7 separate regions of the Homo sapiens genome follow, and all the other regions are linked to region 7. Evidence: fine-mapped expression QTL. A gene starts in region 7. Each other region holds a variant in brackets. All regions are shown on one strand. Distances are between the middles of the regions.

Region 1 (4,000 bases), 95 kb after region 7:
TGTTCACAATGTTGAACTCAGGTCCCCTGAGTCCAGATCTATTGCTCTTCCAGGCCTGGCATTCTGCTGATGCTCAATCCTATCTGTCCACCCTCAATTTCCAAATGCTGTAGTAGGACGTAGCTGTAGTTGAGAGTTTCCTACAGGTGACAGGAAGCAGGAAAGCAGTGTTTGCAGCCAATGCTCTGGGCCAGGAGCTTTGCTGTGATGTCTTTAGTTCAGACTGAGGGTTATTGAGAGAGTCCACTCTGGAAGTCTGTGATATCAATTGTACAGTTTTGGCTAAAGATGTTGTCTATCATGAGGAATTCTGCAGAGAATTTTCACCTGGCAATTGAATCAAATCATGTTGGTTCTCACCTGCGATTCTGCTTATTTTGATGTTAGTGACATTCTTTTTCTTTTGATAGGAGAAAACTTCAACTTCATGAAGGCTTAGATTCTGTCCCTGAAGCCCATTCTGAACTCACTTGGCCTCACACATTGCTCCACTACAGCACTTATAACAGTGTACTTCAAATATTTGTCCTCACATCTTTCTCTTCAACCGCACCCTGAGGTCTTTAAGAGCAGAGAAACTGTCTTGGAATTTCTAGTGCAACAGACTAGGTGTGGAATTTAGAAGAGTGTTGGTAACTATTTCTCTCAAGCAGCTCCTACCTGAAAATCACAGGGTCATCCAGCATCTTGCAAAGGCTGGCTCAGTCACCAGATCTCACTGGAACTCCTACAGGAACCTCCCACTCAACAGAGTGTCCTCTGCAGTTGGTCGTTCTGAGAACAGCTGTTCCCCTTCATTGCAGGTCTGCTCACTGCCTCTGGGAAGAAGAACGGAGGGGATGTGGGAATCTGCTCATGAGCTGCCTTCTTTCCAAGGCCAATGATATCATTTCCTCTAAAAGTTACATGTCGAGGAAGAGCATGCAGGACATTCAGGAGTATTCTCCAGAAAGTGAGAAATGATATGAAAATCTCACGTGGCACCTTTTGGGAGCTACCATTCATGACTACTTTTTTTTTTTTCTTTGAGATGGAGTTTCGCAAGCACATTTATTTATTTATTTATTTATTTATTTATTTATTTATTTATGCCCAGGTTGAGGTGCAATGGCATGATCTCAGCTCATTGCAACCTCTACCTCCTGCGTTCAAGCGATTCTCCTGCCTCAGCCTCCCAAGTAGCTGGGATTATAGGGGCCTGCCACCACGCCTGGCTACTTTTTTGTATTTTTAGTAGAGACGGGGTTTCACCATGTTGGCTAGGATGGTCTCGATCTCTTGACCTTGTGATCCGCCTGCCTTGGCCTCCCAAAGTGCTGGGATTACAGGCCTCAGCCGCCACACCCGGCCCATGACTATTTTTTAGGCATGAATTCAACAAACTTTCACACCTAACTCATCAAGCATTGTGCTAATTCTACATAAAAGCAAACACCTTTCAAATAAGTCTCTCACTAATACATCCTATCTCTATATCCAATCCTTTCCACTTCATGAAGAAAATATATTTATTGATGCTGAGCAAATGCTGAGCCTTCGTAGCCATTCACTGATGCTCTAGTACACCTGGGCTCAAGGGCACTGAGTCATCAGCCTCACAAGAACCAATTGGATCTGTTTCCTGTCTTGCTTTTGCCAATTAGACTTGTCAATATAATTACCTAATTTATCAAAATACACCACAAATCAATGAAATACCAGTATGAAAGAAGAATTGTGGTTTCCATACAAATTAATGTGAATGCTTAAAGGGACAATAAAAGCAGGTTCCAAAATTATTGTTAGTTTAATAGGTGTGAGTCTTCCAATTCTACAAGATTAAACAAAAATGAACAATATTGAACAATATCCTCAGAGAGAATGCTATGTATTTGATGCTAAGATCTACACTTAAACTAATCCACACTGCAAATCATAGACAATGATTGATAGATATGCTTTCAGCAAGATAGAGTAGAATTCTATTTGCTGAACCCTACACAAAGGAGTGTTCTGTAGTCTAGTTCTACTATAGTGAATGAATTCTAGGTAAAAATGAAATATTCATGTTACAAACATATCCTTTTTTATGAATACTGATTAACAGACATTTTCAGTTAACCTATCCACTTGCATTCCTGAATATATCATTAAGTGGGCTTTTCATAACAGTATCTCTCACTTATTCTACTGTTTATTGTATAAATACATACTGAGCATCTTCTATTCTCTAACTTGCATGCCAGACACT[TA/T]AGGAGTCAAAGTAAACACACCTACATTCACAGAGCGCACAGCCTGTGAAGGAAGGACACTAGTGCAGGAAAGACTGCCTCCCAGTGTGACACATGCTATCCAAGAGTTGTACTTGTGGCTCAAGGGTGCTCAGAGGAGAGGGTATCTAAAAATTCCAAGTTATCTTACTGCCATCCTGAAGAGGAATGCCACCCCCAAGCACCCAGCTGAAGCAGGGCAATACGACTCCAATAAATTAGAGAACGTTCACCAGGTGGCTGCTCATGCGGGACAACAATCTCAACAACGGTTTTATAATTGATGACATCACAAGATTAATAGGCTGAATCTTACAACAGCCCTCAGTCTATAGTCCAATATCACACCAGTGCACAATTCCAGAAAAGATTTTCAACAGACACTGCAGGTGCTTGGGTCACAGTCATTGCAGAACTACCTACTACCATTACCCTGTGTTCCAGCAGAAGAATCCCTTACCTCAAGGCAAACCCAAATCAAAGCATCTAGAAATCTTAGAATACAGAAGGGTGCAGAATATGCAAGTGCTAAAATGGGAAGAACATGGACATAGTTTCAGGGATTTGGGATTCTCAAGCTGACTGCATGGCCAACATGAGTCACATGCTCATTCCAGGGAAACCAAGCAGATAGTGAGGTTATGGGATTGTCCCAGTCTGAAACTGTGCCATTCGTGCATTTGTGCTCAGGTATCTCTTTTCAGAATATGTGGGCAAGGTGTGACTTTGCCATAAACATGGACTGAAGATAAGTACTGTTATGATCCAGACCGCCTGAGAAATTCGTGTCTCTGCACAGTGACTATAATCACAGTCAGCATATATTCTTCTCACCTATGTGGCAGTGACCTAGAATCCAAAGAGACTGCTGTGATGCTTTTCTGTATGACGGTGTGGTATCCACTGGGCACCATTATTGTCAATGTACCAATGCTGACTATAGATATAGATGGCATTTGTTTGCTGTTATCTAACAACAACAGCAGAGTATAGAAGAAGAAATCTCAATGCTCATGCCCATCATATTGGTCCAATTCTTCTGAAACCTTGCAGGATGCAAACACAAGGAAGGAGAGAAGAGACACAGCAGATCTTATCCCTAAGTGTGTATGTAGAAGTGAGTGGATCATGGAAGGCTTCGTGTAATAGGTGGAATTTTAACTGATGACTACAATTTACCCAGCATTATTATTATAATTATACCCTCTGTAAATTTTTCCAGTCACACAAATTTTTGTATTAGGGAAGGAGAGATAAATAGGATCTGGACAGATGGAAATAGAAGAAGAGATAATTTACAGTGGCACTGTTAATAAAAGCGTACAGTTTTTTAGGGAATGGTGAATAATTCATACATGAGTTTTATTCCTTGTATCACCCCATGTATCTGGTCATGGTGGCAAGATCCCTCTTAAATAGAATCACAAGGCTGGAGTGCTCTGAATAATGAACATTATCTTTTGTGGCCTTGAAGTAGTAGGTGTTGGTGTTAATTTTGTGATATTCGTAGGAGTGAACTCTATAATAATGTAAAGTCCAGAGTGGGCCAGGCAGGTCAGGCCAACAGGACAAGCCACAAAGTCAATGTCCTGCTCTCCATACCCTCCTCCAGCCCTCCAGGGTCAGAAGGCATATGTGCAGCCCTCCAGGGTCAGAAGGCATATGTGCAGCCCTCCAGGGTCAGAAGGCATATGTGCAGCCCTCCAGGGTCAGAAGGCATTCATAAAAGATAATAAAAAGCATGGGGTTAG
Region 2 (4,000 bases), 51 kb after region 7:
CTAGGGTAAAGCTTCTCAGAGTGTGGCAATGCACCAGAGCACCAGCATCACCTGGGAACATATTAGGAATCCTGGACCTACTGGACTAGAAACTCTGGAGGGAGGCTCGGCAATTAGTGATGCGGGGACATGCTTAAGTTTGAGAGTCCCTGTCCCAGGTGATTCTAACATGCAGCCAAGGCTGAGAATCACTGTGGCAGCAGACGGTGGCCAGCGGATATAATACAACAATATGACTAATTCCTAAAAGGTGCCATTCCTGACATAAGCTTATTTCTTTATATACTAGTAGTGAGTAAATATATTTAAGACAGAAAAACTCAGTATAAAAATAGCATAATCATCAAATCTTATATTAATATAAGGAATCAAGGAAAAAACGGTTAATCAGGCCCTAATTCAGAGAGAACATTCTACTTAAATAAGAATTCTAATTCAACATTCAATTTGTAAAAATACACTATGGAATTCTCCATTTTATAATCTGAAAGAGAGGAAATACAGTACAGTGGTTATACTGAAGTCAGGCCTAGGCTGAAATCTCAGCTCCATTCTTTCCTAGCTGTGTGACCCTGAACACATATCTTCACCCAAGATTTAGTTCTTTGAAAGTATACCTCATAGTAGTAAGACCAGGTATTCAGTAAACAGCAGTTTTTCATAATTATAATTATTGAACAGATATTTACTAATCCATGATATGCATAGCACATGGCAATTTAATTGGCAATAAAGCACAGTACACTGCACAGTATATAAAGGCCTCTCCTTTAGTCTTTATCTATTGTTCTTGGCAGTTTACTAACAGCAATGACTACTGAAAGCTTACTTACTTACTTGGGAAGGTGTGGAAGGAAAAGTACCACTGTGAATTAACAGATGCAAATACTGAGAGGGGACAGAAGGCACACAAAGGGAGGCACGGAGACAGCATGAGACAGGGAGTAGAAAGGTCTGGCTAAATCAGAAGGGTTACCTGGCTATCCAGATTTTATGCTGGAAAGATGAGTTAGGTTCAGAGAGTAGAGGTCTTAAGCAGCAGGCTGAGTTTAGAATGGTTTTCAAGCAATGGTGGATTTTGTCAGTAAAAAAGAGAAATCAACTGAAAAATGGGAGGCCCAGGCTCTGTTCCTTGTTCTGATACATACTAGCAGCATAACAGTGGTTATGCCTAACTCGTCTCCACAGCTGGTAAATGAAAGTGCTAATTTCCCTGGTCCGGCCTGAATCTAAAATTCTATGATTTTCATAATTTTAAATTATTAAATTATTAATAATTTAATATTTTAAATTATTACAGGCATTTAGCTCACGCTTATAATCCCAGCACTTTGGGAGGCCAAGGTGGGAGGATCACTTGAGGCCAGGAGTTCAAGACCAGCCTGGGCAACATAAGGAGACCTTTGTCTCCACAAAATAAAAATAAAAATTAGCTGGGTGTGGTGGCTTACACCTATACTCCCAGTTACTTGGGAGGCTGAGGTGGGAGGGTCCCTTGAGCCCAGGAGGTCAAGACTGCAGTGAGCCGTGATCACGCCACTGCACTCCAAGCCCTGGAGACATAGTGAGACCCTGTCTCAAAAATAAAATAAAATAAATTTAAATAGCAAATTACCTAGGACCTGGCAATGTTCAATTAACATCTACAGGCTGATTTGTTGATTTATGGTCAGTAAGAAAATCAAAGTGAGAAAAATAAAAGACTATCCAGCACTATCTGTTCTTATTGCTTCAAAGAAGAAGGCTTTAGAAATGTACATACTTACTCTTAATCGAGGACACTTGGACTTGGCCAGTACTCCCATGAATATATCAGGAGCATTAAATTCTTGGAGAAATAAAGCCACGTCCTGAAAAGAAAAATGATTATTAACTTGGATGTTGAATATTCCTCCCTAAACCCTAAAGCTCAGGCAACCATAAAATTCTATATTAAAATTAGAATTTTACGCCAGGCGCAGTGGCTGACACCTGTAATCCTAGCACATTGGGAGGCCAAGGCTGGCAGATTGCCTGAGCTCAGGAGTTCAAGACCAGCTGGGCAACACGGTGAAACCCTGTCTCTACTAAAAATACAAAAAAATTAGCCGGGCATGGCGGCATGCACCTGTAGTCCCAGCTACTCAGGAGGCTGAGGCAGGCGAATCGCTAGAACCCGGGAGGCAGAGGTTG[C/T]AGTGAGCTGAGATCACGCCACTGCACTCCAGCCTGGGTGACAGAGCGAGACTCTGTCTCCAAAAAAAATAAAAAAATAAAATAAAATTAGAATTTTAGACACAAGAAAAAAAAAACACAGGCTTAGGAACTGTGTCAACAGACAAAAGTGATGTTAGAGAGTCTTTATGGTAACTAGTCCCAGACAATGGAACAATTTCATAAACAAATCTAAACTACCTACAATACTCCAGAGGATTATCCCACTCTTTTCTGCCCGAATCTATTTACCTTAATAATTTTTCTGCCCACTAGGAATTCTCATTAAACACATTCAAACACATTTGGTGATTACCTATCAGGTATTAAACTAGAAGCGGGGGACAAGGGAAAAAAGCAACACGCTGGGCGCAGTGGTTCACACCTGTAATCCTAACACTTTGGGAGGCTGGTTAGAAGGCCGAGGTGGGTGGATTACTTGAGCCCAGCTTGGGCAAACATAGTGAAAACCCATATCCACAAAAAATACGAAAATTAGCCAGGTGTGGTGGCACATGCCTGCAGTCCCAGCTACTTGGGAGGTTGAGGTGGGAGGATCACTTGAGCCTGGGGAGCTCAAGGTTGCAGTGAGCCATGACTTTGCCACTGTACTCCAGCCTGGGCAACACAGCGAGAAAAAAAGGAAAAAAAAAAAAAAGGTAAAACTTGGCTGGGCGAGGTGGCTCACGCCTGTAATCCTAACACTTTGGGAGGCCAGGACAGGCGGATCACTTGAGCCCAGGAGTTCGAGACCAGCCTAGGCAAACATAGTGAAACGCCATCTCTACAAACAATACAAAAATTAGCTGGGCATGGTGGTGTACCATCTGTAGTCCCACCTACTCAGGAGGCTGAGGTGGAAGGATTGCTTGAACCCGTGAGGCAGAGGGTGCAGTGAGCTGAGATCTCGCCACTGCACTCTAGCCTGGGCGACAGAGTGAGACTTTGTCTCAAACAAAAACAAAATTCCTTCTTGTCCTCCAAGAGCTTAAAACACGGTAGGGGAAAGAAGTCAAGAACTGCTATTGGGTCCTGTCCAAAACCAGAATTTGTGTTTTCAAAATCATCAATAGAATAAAAATTCTGATCACAATGTAACTGTGGCAGCCTCATAACTTCTTCCTACAGAGTCTGCCACAGTGCCTAAAGGGGCGTAACACACAGGTGACATGTGAGTGGACATGTGGCCCCAAATGAGCCAAATCTCACCTAGGAATGTAAGACACAAAAGCTAAGTCAGTTTGCTTGGGGACCTGCAATGTAAAATATATAAATAAAATTAAGTCTCTGGCTGTCCACTGCTTCAGATTTTCACTAAATGTGAGGTGTGTATTTGAGAAGCCTTAACTTAAAATATAAGCTGCATGGCTTATGTGAAAATTAAGGGCCCTGGAACATCTCAAAGAGACAGGCAATTATTCTCCACAGCAAGTGAAACCAGTAACCTGCCAGACAACTGACTGAGAGAGACACACTCTACTTACTAAAGGACCATGGTCAGAGAAAATAGTATTTTCAAAGATACACTCTAAACTGAAAGTCATAATGGCAGATTCTCTTCACTGTAAGTGATCAAGCTGTCCTGTGGGCAATTCTTTGCCACATGCAGAAATTTTTAAATTTAATGGTAATTCCTGGAGTAGCACAAGGGTGGCCTAACAATATCAACACCAACAGTAATAAAATTAACATTCATTGAACAAGTATTAAATGCCAGGCACAGTGAAGTGGCTTGCATGCTATCTCATTTAATTCTCAAAACAACTCTATCAACTAGTTATCATTGTTAGCCCCATTACACTCATAAGCA
Region 3 (4,000 bases), 28 kb after region 7:
GCCATACCTGCTTGGTCAAGCATGGGTGTGAAATATAAGTTCCTTACAGGAAATATCCTTATAGGAAACCTTTCTGTAGAAGGCTATGATTTTGAGTGTCCAGCGCCAATTCATCACACGGAGCTACTTTTCCTAAGCCCTAGGTGGAGCAGTCATGTTCAGAGGTGAGAACAGTGGATCTGGTGTTCAGCTTCAAATGTACTATTTCCTTGTGAACTGTCACTTATAAGCTGTAAATCTCTCCCAATTTAGTCCAGTGTCTCTGTACAACCTGTCTCTTTCATCGACATTGTTAGCCCTTTAAATGTTTGTATTCCTTGGAGCTTTGTCCTAAGTCCTTAAGCTGTATCTCTAGCCCACTCTCTCACAGAGTTCCAAGTCTGTATGGAAATGGGACATCTCCATGTGGATGTCCAACAGGTATTCAAAATTGAACACGTCTTTTACCCACCTTTACCTGCAACTCTTCCTGGATTACTTCCCTATCATGATGAATGACGCCATCATCTATTCAGTCACCTAATCCAGAATTCTGGATTTAACTTCTCACTCTCCTTTGCTTCAAACTGATGCCCAAATCCAGTTGTGTCTACTGCTAAACCTCTCTGTATCAAGCCCCTCCTCCCTCAGAAGGCTTTCAGTGATCATGACACTTTAAGGGCTTCTCACTGCCTTCAAGGTCACACTCAGCATGGTGATGTGCCACTGAGGACCAGAGAGTTTCCCTTTTCCACTACGTTTTACAAAAAAATCCTCCTCAGCCCCATGAGGCCTGTGGTTTAGATCTCAAGGACACACAAGAAATCAATCAGTTGGCTCTTCAGAACCTTATATCATGGATGGTTTGTGTCTCATCCAGAATTGGGGAACTTTCACTACCCTGCATCCTACCCTTCTGTAATCCCACAGACACTTCCACATTTTCTCTGTCTGTCACTTATTACACCATTCCCGGTGCCATTTTTTTTTAAAGATGGGAATGCAAATGATCATATCCCAAGTAGAATTTATTATAAGTTAAATTTACTATAGCGATTTGGGCATATCTTACAGACAACCTAAAGCAGGAATTACTGCTGGAACCCATGAGACTGTGACATGAAGCTGGAAAGCGGCTGAGCATTAAGGCAGCTTTTCTTTCATGCTGTTTCAGTGAGAGGTTACTTCAGTAAAGACGTGTAACAAACTACCCCAAGATTCAATGATTCAAAACAATAATCATTTAACTACTCATCACAGATCTGTAGGTTGGCTGCAACTCAGCTAGGTTAGGCTGGACTCCAGGTTGCAGATTAAAAAAAAAAAATTTTTTTTAGAGGATGCGGTCTTGCTCTGTCACCTATCCTGAAGTGCAGTGACACGACTATAGCTCACTGCAGCCTCAAACTCCTGGGCTTCAGGCAATCCTCCTACCTCAGCTTCCCAAGTAGCTGGAATTACAAGTGTAAGCCACCACACCCAGCACCGGCTGCAGACTGGGTTTAGGTTTGCTCCATGTTTCTCATCCTTCATGGATCAATGGCTACCCAGGGCATGCTCTTCTCACGGTAAATGACAGGAGCACAAGCAAACTGCTAAAAGTACTCTGCTTACATCAGCTCCATTAACATTCTATTGGCCAAAGCAAGTGACTTGGTCAAGCTCAAAGTCAAGGGACAGGGAAGTACACTCCATTCACGGAGAAGCCATGGCAAGGGCACGATACACAGAGGTGAAGAATCGAGAATAATGATCCAGTCTGCTACAGGATGCATGACCTCT[A/G]TGCAGACCAGCTTCTTCCTCTGTTCTTCTTACACATGACTCTGGAATTCCAGGCCCACTAGGTCAAGATTTTTTCTGCTTTGTCCACAGTATTTCTATTACACAGATTTTGTCTGTTTTGTTTACTGCTGTCTTCCTAGTCCTTAGAATACCTGGTACATAGTGGATGATAAATATGACTGGCTGCCTCCTCCCAAATAGTGCCCTCAGCCTTGTAAGTTACGTGGTCTAGAGTCCTGTGTCCTTGAGCCAACCTGAGTTGTCCAGCTTGGGTTAGGAGTAATTCCCTTATTAAACCATACGCTGTAACCGGGGGAAGAATGTGGGCAGTCCAGCGGCAATTTTGGAGAAAGGAACGTGGATGTGCAGATAGCCTAGCTGTCTCTTCCATGTGATCTATCAAGACCTTCATGCTCCAGTCCATGCCTCCCCACAGTATGCAAGTACAGTATAGTGGCTAAAAGAATATTCATTAGGCTAGGCAGGTCCAGATCCAAGCCCTGGGTCAGCTACTTACTACCTAAATAACTTTCAGCAAGTTATTTTACCACTCTGAATCTTCATTTCTCCATCTATAAAATGGTGACAATTACCTTATGGGATTATTGCAAAATTAAATAATATACCTAAAGACCTTTACAGAGCATCTGACACATAGTAAATCCTCAATAAATGGCGGTCATCTCTAACAGGAAATTAAGTCTGGTGTCTACCACATCCTTCTGTGTCCTGAGGTAAATTTCGTATCACACTCATTTTAATTTCAACTTTAGTTGATTGTGTTGGGTCACACACTTAGCCCAAAGTAGCCAAATCACAGGTGACTCACACTGCTTGATACAAAAAGACTAGTAACTGCGCAAGAATTTCTCTCTCACAAATTTAAAGAAATACCAAGAGAATAAAGTGATTAAGCTGGCAGAACACAACCCCCCAAAAAAGACAGGCTGGTGTGGTCTTGAGAGACCACAGACAAGCTGAAGTCCTAAGAAAGAAGAAACGGAAATAAGGAAGCCAGGTGACACAGGGACTCAGAGCAGACCCTGATGCCACCTCCTTGGGTACAGATCCTCTCCCCTCCAGGTCTAATTTCAGTGTGGCATGACCCTCTCCCAGAATTGTGATCCTTGCCAGAGCCCTGAGGCATGAACAATTAGGATAAAATGAGAATGCCCTACTCCATGATGTTACTACACTATAGAATCTTGCAAACGTCCAGGGAAAACACAGTTGTTCAGAAAGGGCAATCACATGGGCACAATCATAATGATAGAAGGAGTAGCCTGATATTACGAAATCCTTGGCTGTGAAATGTGAACTTATGGAGGTTTTCTGGCTTTTATATTACAGATGTTCCTTGGGTTGTATAAAATTGGATTTAAGCAAATGTGACCTCATGCAAATTATCTAAGATACATCATAAAAGCTTAGCGATGCAGATTTTGCATTCTATATAGAAATACAAAGCAGTCAGGTTGATGAACAAATAGTATGAGAGGTGAGTGGAGGGCTAGCAGCACCACCACAAGGTTCCCTCCTGCTTCCAGTCTCACCTGTGGTTTTTTTTTTGGTTGCTGGACTGGCCCACAAGACTCAAGACTACATTGGCCCAGGCTCTTGTAAGTTTGACTAGCCCAATGACATAAAAGGAATAAGCATCATTCATAATCAAATTAAAGCTTAAGTTGTGTATCATTTATTTGCTTTTATAAACCTTTAACAGGAAGGCCAGGTGTGGTGACCTGCAAGCCCAGCACTTTGGGAGGCTGAGGCAGGATTGTTTGCAGCCAGGAGTTCAAGACAAGCCTGGGAAACAGTGAGAACCCATCTCTACAAAATCAATAAATAGGCCAGGTGTGGTGGCTCACGCCTGTAATCCCAGCCCACTGAGAGGCCAAGACAGGCGGATCACCTGAGGTCAGGAGTTTCAGACCAGCCTGGCCAATATGGTAAAACCCTGTCTACTAAAAATATAAAAATTAGCTAGGCTAGGCATGGTGGCTCACGCCTGTAATCCTAGCACTTTGGGAGGCAGAGGTGGGCGGATCACAAGGTCAGGAGTTTGAGACAAGTTTGACCAACATGGTGAAACCACGTTTCTACTAAAAATACAGAAATCAGCCGGGCATGGTGGCATGCGCTTGTAATCCCAGCTACTCAGGAAGCTGAGGCAGGAGAATCGCTTGAACCCGGGAGGTGAAGGTTGCAGTGAGCCGCGATTGCGCCACTGCACTCCAGC
Region 4 (4,000 bases), 110 kb after region 7:
CAATTTTGTACAATTGTACAATGTGTTTGTGTTTTAAGCTAAGTGTTATTACATAAGAGAAAAAATTAAAAATTAGAAAGTTCATAAAGTAAAATAGTTACAGTAAACTAAGTTTAATTTATTATTGAGGAAAGAAAAATTTTTAATAAATTTAGTGTGGCCTAAATGTACACTGTTTATAAAGTCTGCAGTAGTGTACAGTAATATCCTAGGCCTTCACATTCACCCACCACTCACTGACTCACCCAGAGTAACTCACTGTCCTGCAAGCTCCATTCGTGGTAAGGGCCCTATACAGGAATATCATTTTTTAATCTTTAGTACCACACTTTTAGTGTACCTGTTCTATGTTTAGATGTATTTAGAACACAAATACTTACATTGTGCTATAACTGCCTACATTATTCAGTACAGTTATTGCTGTGTAGGTTTGTAACTTAGAAGCAATAGGCCATAGAATGTAGCCTATGCATATAACAGGCTATACTATCTAGATTTGTCTAAGGACATTCTATGATGTTCACACAACAATGAGATCGCCTAAGGATGCATTTCTCAGAATGTATCCCTGTTGTTAAGTGAAGCATGCTGTGCCTGATTTATCAAAATACAATGTAAATCAATGAAATACGAGTATGAAAGTAAAAGTGTAGGTTCAGTGAAAACTAATGTGCATGCTAAAAGGAGCAGTAAAGGCTGGATTCAAAATTATTGTTATCGAATTTTAGCTGTGAGCCTGACAACTGTTCTGCACTGAAAAAATTTAACAATATTGAGAAACATCTTCCTGCAGAATTTCTTTCATATGATGCTATGATCTCCATTTTAATAAAGTCAAACTGCAAGTGATAGACAATGCTTGATGGATGTGCTTTCTGCAAGACAGGTAGAGTAGAATTCTATTTGCTGAACACTTCTCAAAGGAAAGTCCTTCATCTCCTTCATTTTTGGTAAGTGAATTCTACTTACAAATAAATTTTTATATTATAAATATATCTTTTTTTACAAATGCCGTTTAATAGACCTTTGCATTTGAACTGTCCACTTTCAGTGCTGAATTTGTCACTAAGTTGGCTTTTCATAGCAATGTCATATGCTCATTCTTCTGTTTATTCTATAAATACATACTGAGAATCATCCATCTTCTAGCCTGCATGCCAGACACTGGGGCATCAGAGAAAACATACCCATCTTCACAGAGCTTACAGTCTGTAAAAGGATGGAGCCTAGTGCAGGGAAGACTGCTGCACACTGTGAAACATGCTATTACAGAGCTGCATCTGTGGGTCTAGGGTGCTCAAAGGAGGAGGCATCTAAAAACTCTCAGTTCTCTTACTCCCATCCTGAAGGGGAATATCACATCCAACTTCCCTCGTACGCATGACAATATGGTTCCAAAAATTAAGGGAGGGTTCACCAGGTGGCTACACATGAGGATGAAATACATCCTCAGCAAAAGGTTTACAATTGATGGAAGGGCAAAACTCATTCTGCCGAATCTTGTAACGTTGCTCAGTCTACAGTCTGATGTATCACCACTGCACAATTTGTGGAAACATTTCTCAAGGAGAGTCCCTACAGGTGTGTAGGCCATAGGCATTACAGAACTACCTGCTTCCACCACCCTGTATTCCAACAGAGGAAGCCCTTGCCGCCGGTAAAGCCCAACTTAACATCAGGAAATCCTGGGATATGTAGGGATGCAGAATGGACAATGCTAGATTGGAAAGAACAGTGGACCTGGAGTCAGGGAACCTGGATTCTCATGTTGACTCCATGCCAACTTGGGTCACATGCCCTATCCAGGCCACTGAAGCAGCTAGTGAGTTTATGAGATTTCTCTAGTCTGAATCTTATGCCAGTTGTGTCCAGGTAAAAGAAACCATTGGTGGGAGCTTACTTTACCATAGACTTGAAGGTAACTATCATTGAGAGTCAGGCAGATGCAGAAGATCACATATCTACATCGTGACTATAATGACATTGAGCATATATTCTTCTCACACATGTGAAAATTACCTAGAACTCAGACAATAGTGTGGTATGTATTGGGCACCAATATTGTCAGTGCACAAATGGTGACTATAAAAATAGATGGAATTTAGCTCCTGTTTTCCAGAAGCTACAGTAGAGTGTGGAAGAAAAGATCCTATTACACATGCTTATCATATTGGCAAAGATGGCTCAAAATCCACTAGGATTAAACACTGAGATTGGAGCAAAGGGTAAAAACCCCATTAATAAGTGTGTCTAGGGTGGTGAATAGACCAGGGAAGGTTTCTTGAAATACTTGGAATTTGAAGTGACAACTCTACAATTCGCCCAGCTTGTACCCTCTGTCTCTTCAACCAGTCACATACATTTTTGAATTAGGCAATGAAAGCTAAATATGAT[CTGGACAGA/C]TGGAAATGGTAGAAAAGGTAATTCCTGGTGGCACTGCAAATAAAAGCATAGAGTTTTTTGGGAATGGCAATCAGAACATAAATGTTTCATTTCTTTTGCCACCACAGGCATTTGGACATGGTTGTGAGAACCCTCTTAAAAGGCTCAAGGATGTTCAATTCCCACCTATGAGTGAGAACATGCAGTGTTTGGTTTTTTTGTCCTTGCAATAGTTCACTGAGAATGGTGGTTTCCAGCTTCATCCATGTCCCTACAAAGGACATGAACTCCTCCTTTTTTATGGCTGCATAGTATTCCATGGTGTATATGTGCCACATTTTCTTAATCTAGTCTATCATTGATGGACATTTGGGGAACATCACACACCGGGGCCTGTCGTGGGGTGGGGGAGGGGGAGGGGTAGCATTAGGTGATATAACTAATGTAAATGACGAGTTAGTGGGTGCAGCACACCAACATGGCACATGTATACATATGTGACAAACCTGCATGTTGTGCACATGTACTCTAGAACTTAAAGTATAATAATAAAATGAAAAAATAAATAAAAGAAAAAAATAATAGGCTCAAGGATGGAGTGCTCTGAACAACGAGTGATGTCTGTTGTGGCCTTGAAGTGGTAGAGGTTGACATCTATTTTGTGAAATTAGTGGACCGTGAACTAAAATACAGTCAAGTCTGGAGAGAGCCAGCCAGGTCACCCCAGCAGGACAAGCCAAAAACCAAAGTCTTGCTCTCCCGACTCTTCCCCCTGGTATATGTTCAACCCTTCAGTGTCAGAAAACACCAAAAAAAGCAAGGGGGGAGTGGGCGGTTCCAAGATAGACGAATAGAAACAGCTCCAGTCTACAGCTCCCAGTGTGAGCGATGCAGAAGACAAATGATTTCTGCATTTCCAACTGAGGTACCGGGTTCATCTCACTGGGGATTGTCGGACAGGGGGTGCAGGACAGTGGGTGTAGCAAACTGAGCATGAGCCGAAGCAGGGAGAGGCATCGCCTCACCCGGGAAGTGAAAGGGGTCAGGGAATTCCCTTTCCTAGCCAAGGAAAGGGGTGACAGACAGCACCTGGAAAATCGGGTCACTCTCACCCTAATACTGCACTTTTCTGACAGTCTTAGCCAACAGCACACCAGGAGATTATATCCCATGCCTGGCTCAGAGGGTCCTATGCCCATGGAGCCTCGCTCATAGCTAGCACAGAGCTCTGAGATCAAACTGCAAGGCGGCAGCAAGGCTGGGGGAGAGGCGCCTGCTGTTGCTGAGGTTTGAGTAGGTAAACAAAGCAGCCTGGAAGCTTGAACTGGGTGGAGCCCATCGCAGCTCAAGGAGACGTGCCTGCCTCTGTAGACTCCACCTCTGGGGGCAGGGCATAGCCAAACAAAAGGCAGCAGAAACCTCTGCAGACTTAAATGTCCCTGTCTGACAGCTTGGAAAACAGCAGTGGGTCTCCCAGCACACAGCTTAAGATCTGAGAATGGACAGACTGCCTCCTCAAGTGGGCCCCTGAGCCCCGAGTAGCCTAACTGAGAGGCACGCCCCAGTAGGGGCAGACTGACACCTCACATGGCTGGGTACTCCTCTGAGACAAAACTTG
Region 5 (4,000 bases), 38 kb after region 7:
ACATATAAATAGCATTTTGACAAAATATGGCCATCATGACTTAGCCATCTTCACATTTATAATGTTGAATCCAGTAATTTAAATTATATAAAACCTGCTAAGGTAATAACCCCAAATCTGGAAAATACAAATATGGAAAAGGGAAGCAAGACAACTAATAAAAAAAAAATCACCAGAATAAGAGAAACTTTTTGTTTCATTTTGTTTTTTGAGATAGGGTCTCACTCTGTCGCTCAGGTTGGAGTGTAGTGGCACAGTCTGGGCTCACTGCAGCCTCGACCTCCTGGGCTCAAGCAATCCTTCCATCTTTGCCTCCCAAGTAGCTAGGATCACAGGCGTGTGCCACCATGCCCAGCTAATTTTTGTATTTTTTGTAGAGATGAGGTTTTGCCATGTTGCCCAAACTGGTCTCAAACTCCTGGGCTCAAGTGATCCACCTGCCTCAGCCTCCCAAGTGCTGGGATTATAGGCGCCTGGCCAAGAGAAACTTCTTAAGGAATACTCTTTAAAAAATTAAGTGGGTATGAATAAATATATTCTTCACAGCTATATTTATAACATTTTATATTCATAATACAATATATTCATAACATATTCATAATACATTTCTTTCCAAATATATGGATAGAAAAAACATGGTCAAAAGAAGAATATTAATAACCATTGAACATATTCAGGGAGAATGTTCCTTAAAAGAAGTTTGCAGTAAATTTTGAAAACTGATTATTTGGTAAATTAGGTTTAAACTGGCTCTCAGTAAAAAAGTCTTTCATCTAGAATCAAGAAAAATGTTTATAATACAGTGTTAAGGGAAAACAGTAGTCTATAAAAATTGCATATGCTGGGTTAAAGTATATGAAAAATGCATTTATAAAAACACATGCATGCAAACATAGGCATATGTCTGTCACACGTAAATATACCAAACCACATCAGCTAGTTGTTTTTAAGATTATAAACTCATGGTGATATTAAGATTTTACTTTATTTTCCCAAATTATATATTACTTTCATATTTAAAAAAAAATAAAGTTTGAAGCGTTAAGCAACCCACACTTTCTTTTGCTTATGACATCATCAATACTTCTTTCCTACCTTTGTTAATGCCTGAAAAATATTAGAAAGAAATTCACATAAAATATCCTTTAAGATTTTCAAGTGGAAATCATCTTGGGTTAAATCAGTCCTTTTAGTTTCCTCTGTGTTAGACTCTGCCGAGTTCTCTGGTTTTTTCTGACACTGTTCCATATTTTGTAAGACCCGAATGAGGCTGTCAATTAGAGGAAGATCTACTGTATAAACAAATCAAGAAGCATGGAATTGGCCAGTTAAGTTTGGTTTTTCATTCATATGTATTGAATTAGTGCTAGACATTATTATTTTGGGTATTACAGATACACTGGTAACATCAGCAAGATGTCAGCCCATAAGAGGCTTACATTTTTATACTTTCAAATAAGTAAATAAAACAGACTATTTCAGGTTTTGGTTAAGTTCTATGAAGGAAATAAAAGAGGAATATAATATAGCAGCCTAGCAGGGCTAGCTCTCTGACAAGGTAACATTGAGTTGAGAACTAAAGCAATGAAGCATCAGCAATTAAAATACCCTAGGAGGTCAGGGGTGGTAGCTCACGCTTGTAATCTGAGCAGTTTGAGAGGCCAAGATGGGCGGGTAGCTTGAGCCCAGGAGTTCGAGACCAGCCTGAGCAATATGGTGAAACCGTGTCTTTACAAAAAGTACAAAAAAATTAGCTCACAGGATTTTTCTACCACTACCACTGTTACCATCTTGGTCCAAGTTATAACATTTCTTGCTATGAGTCAATTATGAAGAATCTCTAAAAGCCTCCTAACTCATGTCCCTTTTGTACCCATGACTCCC[C/T]ATATTTCTCATCAAAACAGCAGCCTATTAAAGCCAGCTCATGCGTAGGCAACTTCTGCTTAAAACCCACCATGGTTCCCCACCTCATTCAGAGGAAAAGGCAACATCAGGCCCTCCATACTCTACCTCTCTGGCTCCATGTGCTACTTTGCTAAATCCACCCCAGCCATATGGGATCTCACTGTTCCTCCTCAAAGACACCAGGCATACTTCTGGTTGAAGGCTTTTACACTTTCCATTCCCTCTGTCTGGAATGTTCTTCTCCCCAAGTATGCACATGACTCCCTCCATTCTGTCCCTAAGGACTGTACTCAATGCCACCTTCTCAATGAGGTAACGTATCTACAAATGAAGATCTTAAAAATATTCAACATTCCTTTTTTATTAAAAACTCTTAATAAAATAGAAACAGATTAATATTTCCTTAAATGGTAAGACATATATCTGTTTTTGGAGGGGGGGTGCGGAGTATTGCTCTGCTGCCCAGGCTGGAGTACAATGGCGTGATTTCAGCTCACTGCAGCCTCTGCCTCCCAGGTTCGAGCAACTCTCCTGCCTCAGCCTTCTGAGTAACTGAGATTACAGGCATGCGTCACCAAGCCTGGCTAATTTTTGTATTTTTAGCAGAGACAGGGTTTCACCATGTTAGCCAGACTGACTTTGAACTCCTGACCTCAGGTAATCTGCCCGCCTCAGCCTCCCAAAGTGCTGGGATTATAGGTGTGAGCCACAGCACCTGGCTGTAAAACATATATCTTATACCCAATAATGCTTAACAATGGAACTCTAGGATTATTCCTACTAAAATCAGGAAGAAGGTAAGGATGTTTTCTACCATCACTATTATTTTACACCAGAGACTCTAGGCAACCCAGAAAGACAAGAAGAATAAACCAGAGATAGACAAGTGATAAAATATATCTAACTTAAGCCAAAGCACTATCAGATAAAGCCCAAAGATTATTACTGGAACGACTACTAAAAATATTAAGAATTTGGTAAGGTTACAGGATACAAAGTTAATATACCAAAATCAATAGCCTTCATATATTCCAACAATAATAATCAGTGGAAGAAAATATGTCACAGACAATAGTAAACCCAAAAGATACAATTATCTAGGAATGAAACTAATAAGAAATATCCAAGATCCATATGAAGAAACCATTACTGAGGGACACAAAAAAGACCTGAACAAATAAAAGGGCATAACATATCCTATCAAGTTAACACGATGTCAACAAAAATGTCAGAAATTTTTTGTTTTTGGAACTCAAAGTTAGTGATAAAAATAGTTAAAAACATTCTGAAAACTTAGAATGAAGAGGAATTTGCCTTATTAGGTATTAAAACATAAAACCTTAATATTTAAAAACACTATGGCTACTAATATATGAATACAGCAATGGAACTGAACAGAATATATAGGGGAATTTTAAAAATAATGATGAAATTTCAAATCAGTGTGGGTAAGCTGGATTATTCACTAAATGATGTTGAGATAACTGGGTAGCCCTCTGGGAAAAAACTGATACCACTAGAACCAAAGTTATCAAAGGGGGAAAAAAAATTAAAGCCACACTTCACATGTGACACGAGAATAAATTCTAAATGAATCATGAATTTAATTGTGGTCATAAAAACAATTCTGTGAAAGAATATGTGTTTATATAGGAAAATATTCATTTTATATTTCTAAATGAAATGTTGGCTAAAAAGCAGAATTAAATATATGTGCATGTGTGGGATGGTAAGATTACAAACATCATGTTTCCTTGATATTTTTTATAAATTTTTCGGCAGGGTGCAGTGGCTCATGCCTGTAATCCCAGCACTCTGGAAGGCAAGGCAGGAAGGTCATTTGAGCCCAGGAGTTTGTGACAAGCCTGGGCAAGATTGTGAGACCCTGTCTCTATAAATATTTAAAAACTAGCCAGGTGTGGCGTCATGTGCCTGTAGTCCCAGCTACTCAGGAGGCTGAGGTGAGACAATCACCTGAGCCCAGGAATTCAAGGTTGCAGTGAGCTATGATCCTGCCACTGCACTACAGCCTGGGCAACAAAATAAGACTCTGGCTTTAAAATAAGTAAACAGGCCAGGTGGGGTGGCTCACGCC
Region 6 (4,000 bases), 140 kb before region 7:
TGAGACATACAACACTTCGTAAATGAAAGGAGCAATGTAATTGACAATTATTATTTGGCCAGAAGCTGTCTCTTCTGTTTGAAGGAATCCAGAGCTTATAAATTGTTCCAGATTCCTTGTGACGAGAAAGAACACATGTTGATAAAGGAATGTACTCCAAGGTATGAGGAACCTGATATGTTACCATTCCCAGTGGGAGATTCTGCTGGAAAGGTCAATGCTTAATCCAAAGGAATGGTATTAATAATGATGAACTTGTAAGCAGGATCAGGGCCCAGCTGGGATGGCACAGAATAATGTGTTATTTTGTGTAACTATCAGAATATAGATGTCTTCTTGATGATATGGCTAAGGTATCATCATGCTATTAGAGTCAAATAAAGGACAAACCAGAACTACATTTGTGCAGAGTGGAGTGGCAGAAGTGTCACCTGAATAGTGATCATCCTGGATATATCTCTCAAACTGAATAAAGGAAGTGTGTATTCAGAGAAGTAGAAACCAGGTCCTCCAATCTTAGACATTAAAATGTCATATATCCAAGAAGGAGCTCCTGGGGGGAAAGTTTCTGATTAGACCTCCCACAGAGGCAAGGGGCTGCAGCTGGAAAGCAGAGGACCAGGCTAGAGTTAGGGGAGTTGCATCCACCCCTTAGGGCCAGAGACTGAGTGTCCTAGACTAAGTGAGCCAGATGCTTCACATTTCTTCTCTCTTTGTCTAGTTCCCTATCTCTCATGCACTATCATTCAGACAAGTCAGAACACTGCCAGCCTGCCTCAGCTGCACTCAGGGGACTCACAGTAAGGTCAGGGTCCAAACTTGGATCAAGGGGTTAAAGGAGGCCTACAGTTCCCCTAAGATCCAAAAGAGGTGAATTCAGAGGAACAGACTTGGAACCATTTGCCACCTACACACACACACACACACACACACTCTCTCTCTCTCTCTCTCTTTCCCTCCAAGGCTAAATCTTGTAAGTTCAGGGTTGGTTAGTTGGTTTGCTTAGAGACAGGGTCTCACTGTGCTACCCAGGTTAGAATGCAGTGGTGAACTCATAGCTCACTGTAACCTCAAACTCTTGGGCTCAAGCAATCCTCCTGCCTCAACCTCCCGAGTAGTTAGGACTACAGGCATGTGCCACCACGCCCAGCTAATTAAAAAAAATTTTTTTATAGAGATGGAGTCTTGTTATGTTGTCGAGGCTGGTCTTAAATTCCTGGCTTCAAGCAATTCTCTCCCGCTTTAGTCTCCTAAAGAGCTGGGATTATAGCCATGAGCCATCATGTCTGGCCTGTTGTGGGTTTGTTTTAATAAGCTAAATCATGGGAATTTGTCGTCTGAAGTCTCCCTAATATTTTGCAAATCATACACCATTCACTCATTCATTCATTCATTCTACTTTTACTGAAAACCAACTATATGCCCAGCATAGGCGAAGAGGACATAGAGAAAAAAAATCAGAAATTACATGTGCCCTCAGAAGATGTCCAATGTAGATGAAGAAGAAAGATATCTATACTGAAAGCCACTTTAAAAAAAAAAAGGCAAAACCAAAAATCTGGCTGTGAATCAGTAACAAATACGCTAATACAAAGCATCAGTGCTGGGGATAGAGGAGGGTGGCCAGGAGGGCCTCGTGGCTCAGGTGGGTAGACAAGACCTCACAGATCAAGTAGAACCTAAGCTGGACCTTACAGAAGAAGCAATATTTAAATAAAAGTCAGGGAGGGAAAATAGTACTTCAAGACTGTGGCAACATTCATTCAACAAACGCTTATTAAACACCTATTCTGTGCCAGACATGGGGCACATGAGATGAATAAGAGAGGAACATCAACAAATACTTTTGAAGAACTTAATATGTATCAGGTAATGTTTTAAGCACTTTACCTACTCAATCTTCCCTGCAATCCAATATGGTAAATTACTGTTATAACCCTCATTTTACAAATGAGAAAAATGAGGCAGAGGAAAGGTGAGTAACTTGTATGAGTGATGGGGCCAGGATTCATGTCTGGCTCTGGGAAGTTTTTTGTTTAAGTTTTATTGAGGTATTTTATATATATTATATATATATTATATATAATATATATATTTTATATATTAAAATATATATAAAATATATATACACACATATATATACACACACACATATATTTAATGTGTGTAATTTGATAAGTTTTGACATATGTACACACTAGTAAAAATTTTTTTTTGAGACAGTCTTTCTTTGTCACCTAGGTTTTTTTGAGACAGGATCTCTCTGTTGCCCAGACTGGAGTGCAGCAGCAC[G/A]ATGGCTCACTGTAATCTCCACCTCCCAGGCTCAAGTGATCCTCCCCGCTCAGCCTCCCAAGTAGTTGGGACTACAGGTGCGCACCACCACACCCAGCTAATTTTTGTATTTTTTGTAGAGATGGGATTTCATCATGTTGCCCAGGCTGTTCTCAAACTTCTGGGCTCCAGCAATCTGCTCATCTCAGCCTCCCAAAGTGCTGAGATTATAGGCATTATCTACCATGCCCATCCTACACTAGTAAAATCTTTACCACAATCAAGATGATGAGCATATCTATCACCAAAAAGTCCCCTCGTACAGCCCTGAGCAGTTTTTGAATGACAACTCATTAATGGAAGCAGGGAAGTCAAGTGGAGGTAGCTGGGTAGTAGTTTGGAGTTTAAAAAAATGACAAATTTAGCTTTGGATATGATGAGTTTGAGCTTATATTCAGCAAATAGTCAAAAACAGGGAACTAGAGAGGGGCTTGGTAAGTGGAGGTGGGAATACTGATTCCAGAATAAAGATAAAAGTAAGACCCTATCCAAGAGGGAGAAACAAAACAAAACAAACAGAGAGAAGAGCAGGGGCTAAGAACTGAATCTGGGAGACATACAGTATAGAAGAGAAGAAGAGAAGATGGTGAAGGAGACAGGGGGATGACAAGGAGAAATACACAGTGTTATGAAAACCAACAGAGAACAAAGCTTCTAAAAAGTTAGATGCCAGAGAAAAGTCAAGGATAATGATGACACTGTATAAAAACATTTCAGAACCAGAAACAAACTCAGAAATGATATAATTTTTCTTTAAAAAAACACAGGGAATCTGAATACCATTTGTGGCCTAGTTAACAAGAGGTATTGTACCAATGCCCATTTCCTGATTTTGATATGATACGACAGTTACATAAGATTCTATCATTGAGGGAAGCTGGGTGAAGCGTATATAGGATCATCTGTATCAATTTCCCTCTGAATCTATATTTCAAAATTAAAAAGTTTAAAAACCAAGGAACGAACTGAACATCATCTAATGTATGCCAGGCATTGTACTAAACACTTTCATAATGAATGATCATTTTAATCTTCGAATAATCCTATTAAATAGATGCTATATTCCCATTTTATAGCTGACAAAAGTGAGAGGCATAATAAAGGACTTGCGCAGAATCACCCAGCTAGATTATGAGGGAGCCAAAGCATTCACTACTTCTTCTACCACAATGTGTATACATTCCACCTAAGGCAGCCCTGACAAGTGGCCTCTCGGCTCCAGCTTCAACAAGTCACAGCCTTCATATTTTACATCCACACAACTGTAGAATAAGCTACTTTACCCTATCCTAGCCCCAGTTTTCTCATTAGTAAAATGGAGCAATAACTCTTATCTTACTTAATTCATAGGACTGCTGTGAGATTCCAATGAGATAATGGGTGCAAAGGATCCTTACAAACTGTAAAGTCTGTGCCCATCTCAGGGACTGACATTCTGAAACAAATGACTGTGAGTTAGGTCAGCCCTGGCTAAACAGACAGAGGGAAAGAAAAAATATCTGCACTAGCAACTCTTGCTTGCCTGTCCTTTTGGGTAGTATATGACCCTGGGGATGCACTGGCTACCCGCAGCATCTGGCCAAGGGCAGGCAGTCCTCTCTGCATAAGCCTGTATCAGCAATACTAGACCCAATCACCATCCTGCCTCCACTAGCCCCACTTTCTTCCA
Region 7 (4,000 bases):
CAGCCCAGGTGACAGAGCAAGACTGCGTCTCAAAAAAAAAGATGTGGAAACACTCCTCCTTGTTTAAGTCATGGTAAAAATGAAGGTTCTCAAAAGGAACTTTTGCTAAGAAACTAGAAAACTAGAAGAAAATTCTCACCCTCTTTTTTGTTCCCCCCCACCCCAAAATAATCTTACAGGACATAGATCTTTGATCGTTACTAAAACTTGGCCATAACTTTGCTTGGTTGACAGAGCTTATGAGGCATCAGTTATTTTTTCCTCCAGTTAACCCCAAACCGCTTTCAGAACCTCAATATTTTGCCTTGTTACTTTTTCCTTTCCCCTTTCAACCTACCCACCTCCTCCTACTCTTTCAGGAAAACAAAACAAAACAAAACAAAACAAAAAAACACAATACTAACCTGGTAAGATAAAATAGGTCACACTTGTTTGAATCAGTGTCTCATCAATACATAAGCATTTTATTTTTAAAGCAACTCTCTGATCAGCTAATACCAACTGGTACCCTTTTCTCATGAAAGGTAGAGTCATTTTCCTACTGCGTCTCCTGGCCTAAGGATGCACTGTGTAGGACATACCACTGGAAATAAGGAAAAAATACCAAGAAGACACTCAGAAGATCAACAGACCCGACCCTTGGGAGAGGTCAAGGCGTATACAATGACCAACTCTTTTCTTCCCTTAGTTTAATCAGTAAAACAAGTGTAATTTATATTTACCGGATCTAGGAAGCACAAAGCACTACTGAATTAGTCTTTTGAAAGCATGGATATTGTTTGAAGACAGAACTAAAAACTGCAAGGAGGATTCTTTCAGAGGGAGGGAATCCTCTACGGAGTCTTGATTTTCTTTTCTAAATAAGGAGTGGGAATGAGGATGAAAGTGTAGATGAAATACAAAAGAAAACACTATCCATGAAAAACAGTATTCTAGGAAATAAAGGCACTGGCAGAGAAAATGGAAATAGAAGACACATCCCTATCTGGAGATAATCTAATAATACATGTACAAATGGACCTCAGTGATAACATATGTAAACCACAGATTATAACTTTACAGAAACATTGATATTAGAATTCCACCCCCCCCTTTTTTTTTTAACTAACAGGCACAAACTTTTCCTGGGTTAGCAAGTTCAACTCTAGTCTTTTTCCTGCTAAGTCAAGTAGAGTGGGACATCAATGAGAAGTTCATTTTAAACCTCTGAAAATCAAACGCCAAAGGCAAGGTTGAGTTCACACGGACTCTTAACTGACTCTAAACCGCAAGGACCTAGTCCTCTTTGTCAATTGCGACCTTGCAAAAAGCTCTCAGTCGTCTGTTGGGATGGTGGTGATGATGGTAAGTGCGATGCTGAGAAGCTTTGCATCTGAGACTCCTTCTTCTTCGGGAGGCTGTTTAAGGGAAGCTTCCCTTCATGGGAGGAGAAGAAAAAAAGAGACATTGCCCTTTGATGGAGAGGAAGGGAAGGAAGAAAAATCTTACTGTTTCTGCCAACATAGAGGAGTCACACAGACTTGGGTTGGACTCTGGACCCCACTTTCCTCATCTGGGGACTCAAGAAATATCTACCAGAGTTTGTCATGAAGGTGAAATCTCATGATGGCTAAAGAGTCTGTTCCTGGCACACAGGAGGCACTCAGAAAGTGTCTTTTCTCCCCAAACAGCGTGGGAGGAAAGAATAGTAAGCGTTTATAGGGGTACAACTCCGACCTCCCAAATCTGACTCCGCAAGACCACCAATTTACCTCCCGGGAGGGTGACTCTGCCCAGCCCCGCGCCTGCCAAGCGCCGCCAAAGCCTCGACGGCGGTCCCCGGTGCCCGCGGGAAGGGCCGCCTCACTCACCTCGGGCGCCAGTAGGTGCAGGCTGGGTCGGCCGGCGGCCCCGCGCTGCCTGTCTCTTATAGAAGCGGGCGTCGGAGCAGCTGGGCAGCGGCCAATGAGAAGGGAGGGCCGGCGGGTGTGGGGCGTGGGCAGTCGCGTCCGCCTGCTCCCAGAGACTTGCACGCCTCAATCTCTGCGTGTATCTGACTGGTGTTTTAATTAAGTGAATGTTAGGCCGTCCTTAACCACACAAGTCTGACTAACACTGAACAATCCAGAGTTGGACATTCTCTCCAAACCAAGATAACGCCTATTATCGACACAATGACCTGCTATAGGACTGCAGTGCTTCTCGCCTGTTGGAGACCAAAGCAAGAATCCCCCCACCTCCCACACCTCTCTGTGCTTCTGGGCTATTTAATAGCCCAGTCCTGACTTATTATTCTCTTGGTGCTTTCCCCCATTCCTTGAGGCAGAGCAACAGTTAGTTGAACTTTTTAGAAGAGAAGTGTTCAGTGCCCTTCTAATTAAAAAAAAATTTTAAGCTGCAAGCAGAGAAGCATTCTATATTAGCAAAAAATCATATTACGTGCTATTGTGAACAACAGGACATAGAGGCAAAAAATTTGGAATAGGTATTTACTGGTTGAGTAGTCAGTCGATTAGCTCCTTATCCCAAAGGACTGTACACATAACGAAGTATATTATAGGACATTCTTTCCTCCAATGTTTGAAAAGTAAGATTTATTGATGTATAATTAACATACAGTAATATTCACCCTGTGAGGTGTACAATTCTGAGTTTTGACAAACATGTATAGTTGTGTAACCACCAAACGATCAAAATATAGAACATTTCTATCACTGCGAGAAATTTCCCTTGTCTAAAGTCTCTCACCTCACACCCAGCCCCTGGCAGCCACTGATCTGATTTCTGTCTCCACAGTTTTGCCTTCTCTGGAATGTCACAGAAATGAAATCATGAAATATGTACAGATTTTTGGCTCCTGGCACTTAACATAATGCTTTTGAGTTTCATGCAGGTATTAGTGATTTGTTCCTTTTCTTTCCTGTTTTCTTTTTTGCTGAGTATGGATGTACTTTAAAGCTCAGGATCTTTACAGCTTTTCTATGCATTTTTCTTTTATCTGTATAATGCTTCTATGAGGTACATATTATTTGTATTTTACAGATACGGAAATTGAAGCACAGGGGTGGCTCTAAGACGTTATTCTGGCACAGGCTAGTAAGTACCATCAATAATCAAGCAAAAGTGTCTGAGTTTAAATCCAGTGCTCTTACTTCAATGCCATAAAAAATACTGGTCAGGGAGAGACCTTTCAGAACCAAGCTGAGGTCAAAGATGTCTTTCCTAAACTGAAAGCCTTTCCTTGTAGATCTGGAACACGATAAGGATGCCCAATTTCACCACTATTATTCAACATAGTACTGGAAGTTCTAGCTAGAGCAATCAGACAAGAGAAGAAATAAAGGGCATCCAAACTGGAAAGGAAGAAGTCAAATTATCCTTGTTTGCAGATGATATGATCCTATATTTGGAAAAACCTAAAGACTCCACCAAAAAACTATTTGAACTGATTAAATAATTCACTAATGTTGCAGGATACAAAATCAACATACAAAAATCAATAGCGTTTCTGTATGCCAATGGTGAACAGTATGAAAAAGAAATTAATCCCATTTACAATAGCCACAAATAAAATAAGTACCTAGGAATTAACCAAAGGAGTGAAAGATCTCTACAATGAAAACTATAAAATACTCATGAAAGAAATTAAAGAGGACACCAAAAGAACAGAAGGCTATTCCAAGTTCATGGATCGGAAGAATCCTTATTGTTCAAATGTCCATGCTACCCAAAGCAATCTACAGATTCAAGGCAATCCCTATCAAAATACCAAAGACTTTCCTTACAGAAATAGAAAAAACAACCCTAAAATTTATATGGAATCACAAAAGACCCAGAACAGCCAAAGCTATCCTGAGCAAAAAGCACAAAACTGGAGGAATCACATTACCTGACTTCAAATTATACTGCAGAGCTACAGTAACCAAAACAGCATGGTTCTGGCATAAAAACAGACACATAGACCAATGGAACAAAATAGAGAACCCAGAAACGGATCCACACACCTACAGTGAACTCATTA

Evidence for each region.
Region 1: its variant is fine-mapped to the expression of TPH1 in lymphoblastoid cells (GTEx, PIP above 0.99).
Region 2: its variant is fine-mapped to the expression of TPH1 in whole blood (TOPMed, PIP 0.92).
Region 3: its variant is fine-mapped to the expression of TPH1 in lymphoblastoid cells (GTEx, PIP above 0.99).
Region 4: its variant is fine-mapped to the expression of TPH1 in gastroesophageal junction (GTEx, PIP 0.99).
Region 5: its variant is fine-mapped to the expression of TPH1 in unexposed skin (GTEx, PIP above 0.99). The same link has a PIP of 0.9 or more in atrial appendage, esophagus mucosa, esophagus muscle, fibroblasts, lung and pancreas.
Region 6: its variant is fine-mapped to the expression of TPH1 in visceral fat (GTEx, PIP 0.95).

The regions. Positions count from the first base shown.
Region 1 is chr11:18,139,794-18,143,793 of GRCh38, forward strand. No RefSeq gene overlaps it. Among named protein-coding and RNA genes, the nearest start is that of MRGPRX3, 9.2 kb to the left of the region's middle. The variant TA/T (reference allele first, on the strand shown) is at 2,231.
Region 2 is chr11:18,095,005-18,099,004 of GRCh38, forward strand. SAAL1 (serum amyloid A like 1) reads right to left here. Exons shown (of 12, transcript NM_138421.3): 3 at 1,767-1,850. Among named protein-coding and RNA genes, the nearest start is that of SAAL1, 9.1 kb to the right of the region's middle. The variant C/T (reference allele first, on the strand shown) is at 2,173.
Region 3 is chr11:18,072,590-18,076,589 of GRCh38, forward strand. No RefSeq gene overlaps it. Among named protein-coding and RNA genes, the nearest start is that of TPH1, 28 kb to the left of the region's middle. The variant A/G (reference allele first, on the strand shown) is at 1,762.
Region 4 is chr11:18,154,581-18,158,580 of GRCh38, forward strand. No RefSeq gene overlaps it. Among named protein-coding and RNA genes, the nearest start is that of MRGPRX4, 16 kb to the right of the region's middle. The variant CTGGACAGA/C (reference allele first, on the strand shown) is at 2,395.
Region 5 is chr11:18,082,440-18,086,439 of GRCh38, forward strand. SAAL1 (serum amyloid A like 1) reads right to left here. Exons shown (of 12, transcript NM_138421.3): 10 at 1,096-1,292. Among named protein-coding and RNA genes, the nearest start is that of SAAL1, 22 kb to the right of the region's middle. The variant C/T (reference allele first, on the strand shown) is at 1,885.
Region 6 is chr11:17,909,262-17,913,261 of GRCh38, forward strand. All of the region lies in intron 9 of SERGEF (secretion regulating guanine nucleotide exchange factor), which reads right to left. Among named protein-coding and RNA genes, the nearest start is that of SERGEF, 100 kb to the right of the region's middle. The variant G/A (reference allele first, on the strand shown) is at 2,293.
Region 7 is chr11:18,044,391-18,048,390 of GRCh38, forward strand. It overlaps TPH1 (tryptophan hydroxylase 1), which reads right to left and starts at 1,879. Exons shown (of 11, transcript NM_004179.3): 1 at 1,851-1,879.